Linked DNA regions of Homo sapiens: region 2 is linked to region 1. The links come from fine-mapping of genetic effects on gene expression. A gene starts in region 1. The other region holds a variant in brackets. All regions are shown on one strand. Distances are from middle to middle. Region 1 holds the start of NIPAL1 (NIPA like domain containing 1). Region 2 overlaps NFXL1 (nuclear transcription factor, X-box binding like 1).

What was found. PIP is the estimated chance that this variant, and not a neighbour inherited with it, causes the effect. A credible set is the group of variants that fine-mapping cannot tell apart.
Region 2: its variant is the best candidate, but not a certain one, in a credible set for the expression of NIPAL1 in whole blood (TOPMed, PIP 0.59).

Annotation. Positions count from the first base shown.
Region 1 is chr4:48,014,309-48,018,308 of GRCh38, forward strand. NIPAL1 (NIPA like domain containing 1) reads left to right here and starts at 2,464. Exons shown (of 6, transcript NM_207330.3): 1 at 2,464-2,577. The coding sequence starts at 2,532. It overlaps CNGA1 (cyclic nucleotide gated channel subunit alpha 1), which reads right to left and starts at 2,373. Exons shown (of 11, transcript NM_001379270.1): 1 at 2,175-2,373. RefSeq lists an enhancer at 2,054-2,555 and silencers at 2,320-2,649, 2,940-3,099.
Region 2 is chr4:47,864,397-47,868,923 of GRCh38, forward strand. The region is part of intron 18 of NFXL1 (nuclear transcription factor, X-box binding like 1); the gene reads right to left. The region is part of intron 1 of LOC101927179 (a long non-coding RNA gene); the gene reads left to right. Among named protein-coding and RNA genes, the nearest start is that of CORIN, 29 kb to the left of the region's middle. The variant C/G (reference allele first, on the strand shown) is at 1,798.

The DNA of each region.
Region 1 (4,000 bases):
GGAAAATACATATTATAAATTTCTGCTAGGCAACATTTAAACTGGAAAAGCAGTGGTCTTAAATGAGTTTAAATATTTTTTTTCTGAATTTTTTCTCTTTATTTTCAGAATTGAAAAGCAAGAACTACAACAAAATGCCTCTTACCTAAAGTAGACCTTAATATGCAACTGAAATTCAATAAAGATACATTTTTTAAAGTCTGTTTTGTTTTTTAATGTCCAATTACCAAATGGGTTAAGAGCACATACTTGAAGCCCAGCTTTCTTGGTTAGCATCTTGGTTCCACACTTACTGGTTATGTGTGCATAGGCCAGTTACTCAATCTTTGTGTGCCTCCATTTCCTCAGCTGTAAAGTGGGGGTAGTAGTATCTACCTTACAGGATTTTCATGAAGATTTATAAAGCAAATATTTACAAAGAGATTAGAATAGTGCTTGCCACATAGTAAATGCTATCCAAGTGTTTGTTAAATAAAAAATAAGCACCATAGATCACGTTTACCATCATTACTAATTTTTGATAAAGACAAAATTTTAAGTTGGAAATCCAAAGAAAACGTTTAAATAGAAGTCTAAGTTTTGGGCCGGGCTAGGTGGCTCACGCCTGTAATCCCAGCCCTTTGGGAGGCCGAGGTAGGCGGATCACGAGGTCAGGAGATTGAGAGCATGCTGGTTAACACGGTGAAACCCCATCTCTACTAAAAAAAAAAATACAAAAAATTAGCCGGGCGTGGTGGGGGGCGCCTGTAGTCCCAGCTACTCGGGAGGCTGAGGCAGGAGAATGGCGTGAACCCAGGAGGCGGAGCTTGCAGTGAGCCGAGATCGCGCCACTGCACTCCAGCCTGGGCGACAGAGCGAGACTCCGTCTCAAAAAAAACCAAACCAAGCCAAACAAACAAACAAGCAAACAAAAAGAAGTCTAAGTTTTAAGGCTTGTTATGGAAAATTGGCATAAATCTCCCTCGCTTTCAACTTTCACCTATTCCACTCTCCGTGGTGTTCCTTCTCTGCAAAGTCATCCATATGTATTATAAAAGTGGGTGCCTTGGACTGGTATGTTGACTAATTTGTTCTTAGCTCTTCTCTCATCCGCCTAAGAACAAGAAAAACAAGATTGAGGCCTCTGCTATGAAACTCTTAGGTAATAAAATTAATAGCACTGTTCATGCCTACTTAGAACAAAGGCTACCTGAGTACATGAGAATATTTTCCTCAGTGTTAAAATGCCAGAGCACAAAGGCACCCCAGTTCTCCCTGGTGAGGGTTTGAGCCCGAATTGTTCACTACCCCACCCCTCACCTTTTTTTTTCTTGAGACAGGGTCTCACTCTGTTGCCTGGACTAGAGTGCAGTGGTTCGATCATGTCTCACTGTAGCCTCCACCTCCTGGGCTCAAGTCATCCGTCCTCCCACCTCAGCCTCCTGAGTAGCTGAGACTACAGGAGTACACCACCACATCTGGCTAATTTTTGTAGAGACAGGGTTTCACCATGATGCCCAGGCTAGTCTCGAACTTGTGGACTCAAGAGAGCCACTCGCCTCAACCTCCCAAAGTGCTGTGATTACAGGGGTGAGCCACCCGCCAGCCCTGCCCACTCCTTGTTTTGTAAATACCTGCTATCAGGTCTTCCAACCTTGGTTTGGTTACTTAACCTCACTCTTTGCCTCTAATCCCTCATCTGTAAACTGAGCGTTAATAGACTGCTGTGAGATTTAATTAATACATAATGTGCCTGCATATGTATGGTATAACAAGGATATCATAAACATTAGTTATTAATAATTCGTGGAAATAAGTCTTTCCAGTTTTGGCATTGCTTTTCCCTTAAAGGTTTATTTCAAATACCCCTATGACCCAGAAAATGGGGCAGGGTAGGGGGAGTTGCCTGCTGGAGACAGAACGGAGAGTGGATGGATATAGCGGGCGTGGACGGACAGCGACAGAAGCTGATAACAGCACAGAAGGGCAAAGTCTGCTCAGCAGCCCCCAAAATAAACTTGAGCCTGGCAATCGGCGCAGAACCCCAGCAGTCAGCAGCTTCGGTGCAAAGCAACTAACACCTGAAGGCTTCCAAAAGCAGCAGGGCTCTCTCTAGCGGGGGAGCCTTTTCGACCAGAGAGGAGCCAGAAGGGGGCCTCAGTGCAGCCTCCACTCCACTCAATTCCCGGAGTTACCTTGGCGGGCTCCACGCTCCGAGAGACGCTGTTGCTCTATGAGGCGTGTCTGTGTTTCTCTAGTTCGCGGCTCCAGCAGTCGCGCCAAGGGGCAGCTGCTACTCCTGCCAGATACACCAGTTATCACAGGCCGCTCCCAGGCCTGCGGGGGCCCTGAGAATTCGCAACAAGCCCCGGGCAGCAGGGCTCGGCTGGCGCTGAGGCCCCGCCTGGCCATGCCCATTGGCGGAGGCTGCCCCGGGGGCGGGGTCAGGGCGCCCCATTCCCAGACCCCGCAGCCCCGCCCGCCGCGGGTGCGTGTGGAGAGGCCCAGGTGAGGAGCAAGCGCCCGCGTTCCGGAAGCCCGCTCCCGGGGCCATGGGGGCACAGGTGAGGCTGCCGCCCGGAGAGCCCTGCCGAGAAGGTTTGTGTCTGCCCTGAGCCGAGGGACCTGGCAGCTGGGTGGCGAAGAGACCGGGTGGGCGGTCCCCGGACACTTGCGGAGACTGGAAAGGGGGGCTGTACCGACTCTAAACGTAGTCGTTCACTCATTCATTCATTCAGTCAGTCGGCCGTCCAGCCAGGCGTTCAACACTTATTTATGGGTGCCTAGGCGATTCGGGCTGTGCTGGAAAACCTGAGTGGAATAAGGCAGGTGGGACTCCCACTCGATTCGCGAGGCCGACCAGTGTAAATTACCGCGTGCTGCGTGTGGGACGGGGAAACTCAGGATGCTATGGGAAGAATCCCGAGTCCCTCTGAGAAGGACGTTTCCTCTGACTCAGGCTCCCTTCCAGAGTCTGCGGCCGACGTCACCCGGTGGGCAGAGGGCGTGTCTGCCTGGGGGGCCCGTGGGAGTTCTGCGCTGCGCCCTGCGCTGGCTCCCGGGGATCGAGCACCGCGAGAGGTTGGGCGCCCGGGGCCGCGGGGGTGGGCGTTGGGCAAGTCTGGGCCGCCCACGTCTCTCCTCTTCCTTGGAAATGAAAAGGTCTCCAAACCCATGAGCCTGTCTGACTCGCTGTGCAGTCACTCTGGCTGCTTAAGGCGAGAGCCGTACTGGAGAGGAAACCTGGAACCGGGAGCACTCGTTTGCAGGCTCTTCTTACTGCTTCTCACCTGAGCCCCGTGAAATCTCTGGGCGAGGCTCCTTGCCCTTCGCCAAGTGTTCGCAACACTGGCGGGTTTTCTGCAGTCTCCATACAGAAGGCCCCGATAAAAGTAGGGAAGGGGGTAGGGGGAGCGACTGGAAGGATGTAGATACATTGAAATGATGGTTTTCGCCGTACCAAGGGGAAAGCAGCTTTTTAATTTACCTGATAATGCAGTAAAGGGGAAGGGAGGCAGTGAAAGGCATGGTAAGAACTACTATATATATACACATATATATATAGTTCCCTTACACATATATATATATATATATGTATATACATATACACCTTTGCAAAGGTGCTCGCAACTTCCCTAGTTTCCTCTCCTCTTGACTCTTCCAGCTTATTCCTTTTTAACAAGTGAGCTCGTCCAAACCATGCTAGCAAGGAAGAGAAGGGACACCAAAAAAAGGAGAAAAATGCCTGAACAATTCACAAGCTATTAAAAAAAATTTTTTAAGGCCGCTGGATCTAGAATTATTTTCTAGTCTTTTTTTCTGAAAAAGAGCAATAACGCCTGAACAACTCACAAACTATTAAAAAACAAAAATTTTAAGGCAGCTGAATCTAGAATTATTTCCTAGAGAGTCAGGTTGTGTGCCCTTTTTCTAAATAATTTCTAACCCAGCAAATCTGACAGTTACTAACACACCCACACTTGTTTACCCAAGGATCTGTAAGTAAGGAAGGTATATGAAT
Region 2 (4,527 bases), 150 kb before region 1:
TCCGCCTTTCTGTCTTGAGCAGGCCGTAAAGAAATTCTCTGACCTACCTTGTCTGATTGTAGGTCATAAGACCCCATTTCAGAAGGGGTCCTGTCCCATACTCTGGAAGAAGGAATGCTGTACACACAGGCCAAAAAGAACTGAAACAGGCCTTGTTGGGTTTCCCTACTCGGTCTATAATTACTAGATCACACCCTCTGTCCAGTCACACTTCTACATGAGTGTCCATACTTCAATCATGCCTATCCAATGAATTCTCCATAAAGGCCCAAGAAGATAGGGTACGAAAAGCTTATGAATAGCTGAACACAGAGGTTCCTGGAGGGTGGCATGCAAATGGTGGGGCAGGGGTAGGAATGGAATCACCATACCCCTTCTTTCATACCTCACTCTATGTATCTCTTCATCTGTATACTTTGCAATATCCTTTATAATAAACCAGTAAACATAAGTTAAGTTTTTCTCTGAGATTTATGAGGCACTCTAGCAAATTAATCAAACCCAAAGAGGGGGCTGTGTGAACCTAAACTTGAAGCCGGTCAGTCAGAGATTCCAGAGGCCTGAACTTCAGACCAGTGTCTGAAGGGAAGGCAGTCTTGTGGGACTAAGCCCTCAACCTACAGGATCTGACACTTTCTCCAGGTAGTCTCAGAAATGAATTAGAGGACACCCAGCTGGTGCCTGCTACAGAAGTGATTGTTTTCTTCTTGGTTGAAAGAAACTCCCACACATTTGGTCACAAAAGTCTTTTGTGTTGATTGTTGTGTTTTAAGAGCAGAGGAAAAACAGTTTGTGTTTTTTTCCACACAGGACTAAAAGGAAAAGATGACTTAAATAATTCACTGAATTGAAAGCAAACGAAATTATTAGAACTGAAGCGATAGAATTCTATATTAAAACATATACTTTAATATGTATTTAAGAAAAAAAATCTGTAGTGCTGAGGTAATGGAAGCCACCTTAATCCAAATATATCCACATGTCCCCCTCAAAAAACATATAGCTCATTAATAACAAAATCACTGAATCCCACGACCACAGCACAACTAGAAGACACAAATTTCTACAAACTTCAAATTACCTATAACTAGGAAAAAAAAAAAAACAACTCCTGAGAGAGCTATTTTTCAAGCTCCCAATGCAAGTATTTTCATAGAGCTAGTGGAGTTCTGAAAAAAACTAAATGAAAAACAGAAGAGGAGGCTGAGCTAAAATCACAACAGAAAAAGGTCCCCCTAAATATGAAAATACTGAAAATACCCTGGTAGACCACAGCACTAACTAAAGGGAATGGATTTTAACAAGTACACCAGGCTGGGTGCAGTGGCTCATGCCTCTAATCCCAGCACTTTCGGAGGCCGAGGAAGGTGAACTGCCGGAGGCCGAGGAAGGTGAACTGCCAGAGCCCAGGAGTTCGAGACCAGCCTTGGCAACATGGCAAAACCCCGTCTCTACAAAAAAACACCAAAATTAGCCTGGTGCGATGGTGTGCACCTGTAGTCCCAGCTACTAGGAAAGCTGAGGTGGGAAGATCACCTGAGCCTGGGAGGTCAAGGCTGCAGTGAGCCGTGAGTGCGCCACTGCATCCAGTCTGGGAGACAGAGAGACACCTTGTCTCAAAAAATAAAAATAAAAAAAAATTTAAAAAGTATACGAGATTCAAGTAGCCAATCTTGGAAAGGCAACACTCCGGGAAGAAGGTAAAAAGGGAAAGGCAGACTTTAGACTTCAGACTTGTTTCAAAATAAAATAAAATAAAATAAGTACACAAGATTCAAGTAGCCAATCTTGGAAAGG[C/G]AACACTCTGGGAAGAAGGTAAAAAGGGAAAGGCAGACTTTAGGCAGACTTCTTTAGACCCGGCAAAAGAAGGGAAATTTAGGATTTTGCAAGACCAAAGAAAACAAAAGTAAAATAAGGACACATAACTCCTCTCCTCTTCTCAGTACCACCCTCAAACGCCAACCATTTAAAAAATTGTATTTTCCCACACTGGCAAGAGAGTGGTCATCAACTAGAAATCTTATACTAAGCTCTGTCCAAAAACATAAAGATATGTAATTTACAACTATAAAAAACTACTATAGAAAATAAACAGAAAATGACATCCAAAGCCTTTTTGCTGATGAAAATCCCCTCCTGTATCTCCCACCCAAAAAAAGAAGTACAAAGAAGAAGAAAACTGGAACATAATATTCCAAACTGAATTAACTATATGAAACACTGCTTATACAGAAGTGTTAACCTAGCAGACCTGACCACTATCTTTTGAAAGGCCTCCTTGTAAGACTAGCCCTTGGCTGGTGCTTGGGAATCTGGATTTCAGGAAGGTTCCCACCATTCCCAGAACTGGTAAGAACAGCTGACTATGTCTAAACTGTATAAATCAAATGGTTTATGCTGAACAGTTGCTTTCCCTCTTGAGAGCCCTGAACTCTGGTATGTACCAGGTGAGGCTGCCTATGTAGCCTTCCCCCAGTAAAAACTCTAGGTGCTCTAATGAACTTCTCTGGTTGGAAACATTTTACAAGTGTTGTCACAACTCAGTGCTGGGAGAATTAAGTACAAACTATGTGGCTCCACTGGGAGCAGACTCTGGGCGCTTGTGACTGGTTTGCCCTACACTTCACCTCATGTGCCTTTTCCCTTTGCTGACTGTGCCTCCTACCCTTTTGCTGTAATAACTCATAGCAGTAGGTATAACTATATGCTGAGTCCTGTGAGTCCTGGCAAATTACCCAATATGAGCATGGTATAGGGCTCTTCAATACACTACCACCTTAAGTCAGAAAAGCAAAACCTAAGAACATAATGGAGAAGAAATGAACAAAGGTTGATTGAATTCAGGAAAAAAAAAATTAAGATAAAATTACATCAGAAATAAAAACTAAATTACAAGGTGCTCATGAAAGAACATATTTACAGAAGAACATACTTGAATCAAAATTTAATAAGGCTCCCTGAAACGAGGCAGCAAAACATCCTAGATGATAAAAATGAGATATAGAAAAAAGTATCAAAGAAGTAATTGAGTGAAATGGGAGACAGAAAAAGAAAACCCAACATATATACAATTGATATCACTAAAAAACAAAATAAATGAAACAGATCTGGTATTTAAAACTATAATCCAGGAAAATAAAAATATTGAACTTATATGTTGAAAGGGCTAATCAGGTACCTGAAAAAATTTATCAAAAATTATTAACCCTGAGTCGTACCTTAATAAAAACATTAGATTTTAAAGATGGAGGAGGAGGAGGAGGGAAGTGAAGGAGAAAGAAACAACTTTAGGGGTCCCAGGTAAAAAAGATCAATTAACTCATAAGGAGAAGAGACTGGCATCAAATTTCTCAAAAGTAAAATATAAACGAAAGCAGCATAGAGCCACATTTCCAAGAAACTCTAGGAAAGAACGCATCAATAAAAGACTTTTTATACAACTGTAAATGCTATAGCAAAACATTCTTAAAACATGCAAGGGAATGTTTAAGAATTAAGCATTCAGGGAATACTATACTCACAAGCTCTCTTGGAGAAACTACTAGAGGATGCACTTCATTCAACCAAGAGAAGATTGGGAAATTTCAGCAAAAAGACTGATGGTTGAAATTCAAAATTGAAAATCTAAGAAAAAAAGGGCTGGGCGCAGTGGCTCACGCCTGTAATCTCAGCACTTTGGGAGGCCGAGGCGGGTGGATCACGAGGTCAGGAGATAGAGACCATCCTGGCTAACACGGTGAAACCCTATCTCTACTAAAAATACAAAAACAAAATTAGCCAGGCGTGGCGGCGGGCACCTGTAGTCCCAGCTACGCGGGAGGCTTAGGCAGGAAAATGGCGTGAACTCGGGAAGCGGAGCTTGCAGTGAGCCGAGATCGCACCATTGCACTCCAGCCTGGGTGACAGAGCGAGACTCCGTCTCAAAAAAAAAAAAAATAGAAAAGAAAAAGAAAAAAAGGTCGGAATGGGGGTAGAATAATATATAAATGTCATATGTTCTGAAAAAGAATAAAACATGCAACTAAACAATGAGAAGAGAAGGAGAGAAAAAAAGGCAAACAAACTCACTGATTGTCATACAGTCTTAAATGAGAACCAGGTGATAAAATTAAAAGCTGACAAACCAGTTAGTAAAAGATGGAAGAAACAAGGGTCTAAAGACATTAAAAACGTACAAAAAAAAAAAGTAATCAACCACTAAACGAAAACAAACCTTAATAGGAGAAAATTGTAAGAGCAAAGAAAACGTATCACATAAAGAAAAAGTGACATAATACAAACAGTAATCATAAAGTAATAATTCAGAGCTAAACCAAAGATATTAGTGATATTAAAAATTGTTAAAGGACTTACTTAACTTGCCTACTAAAATGAAAAAGGGGATGCATAAGAATTCAAGCCAAAAGTATTAAATGTAACAAAGGATACCTTTCAATGCTAAAAGCCGTAATTATTAAAAATTCTGTATGACATATAACAGCTTAATCATCTTTATAAGCAAAAACTACAGCAGCTGCAAAGAGATAC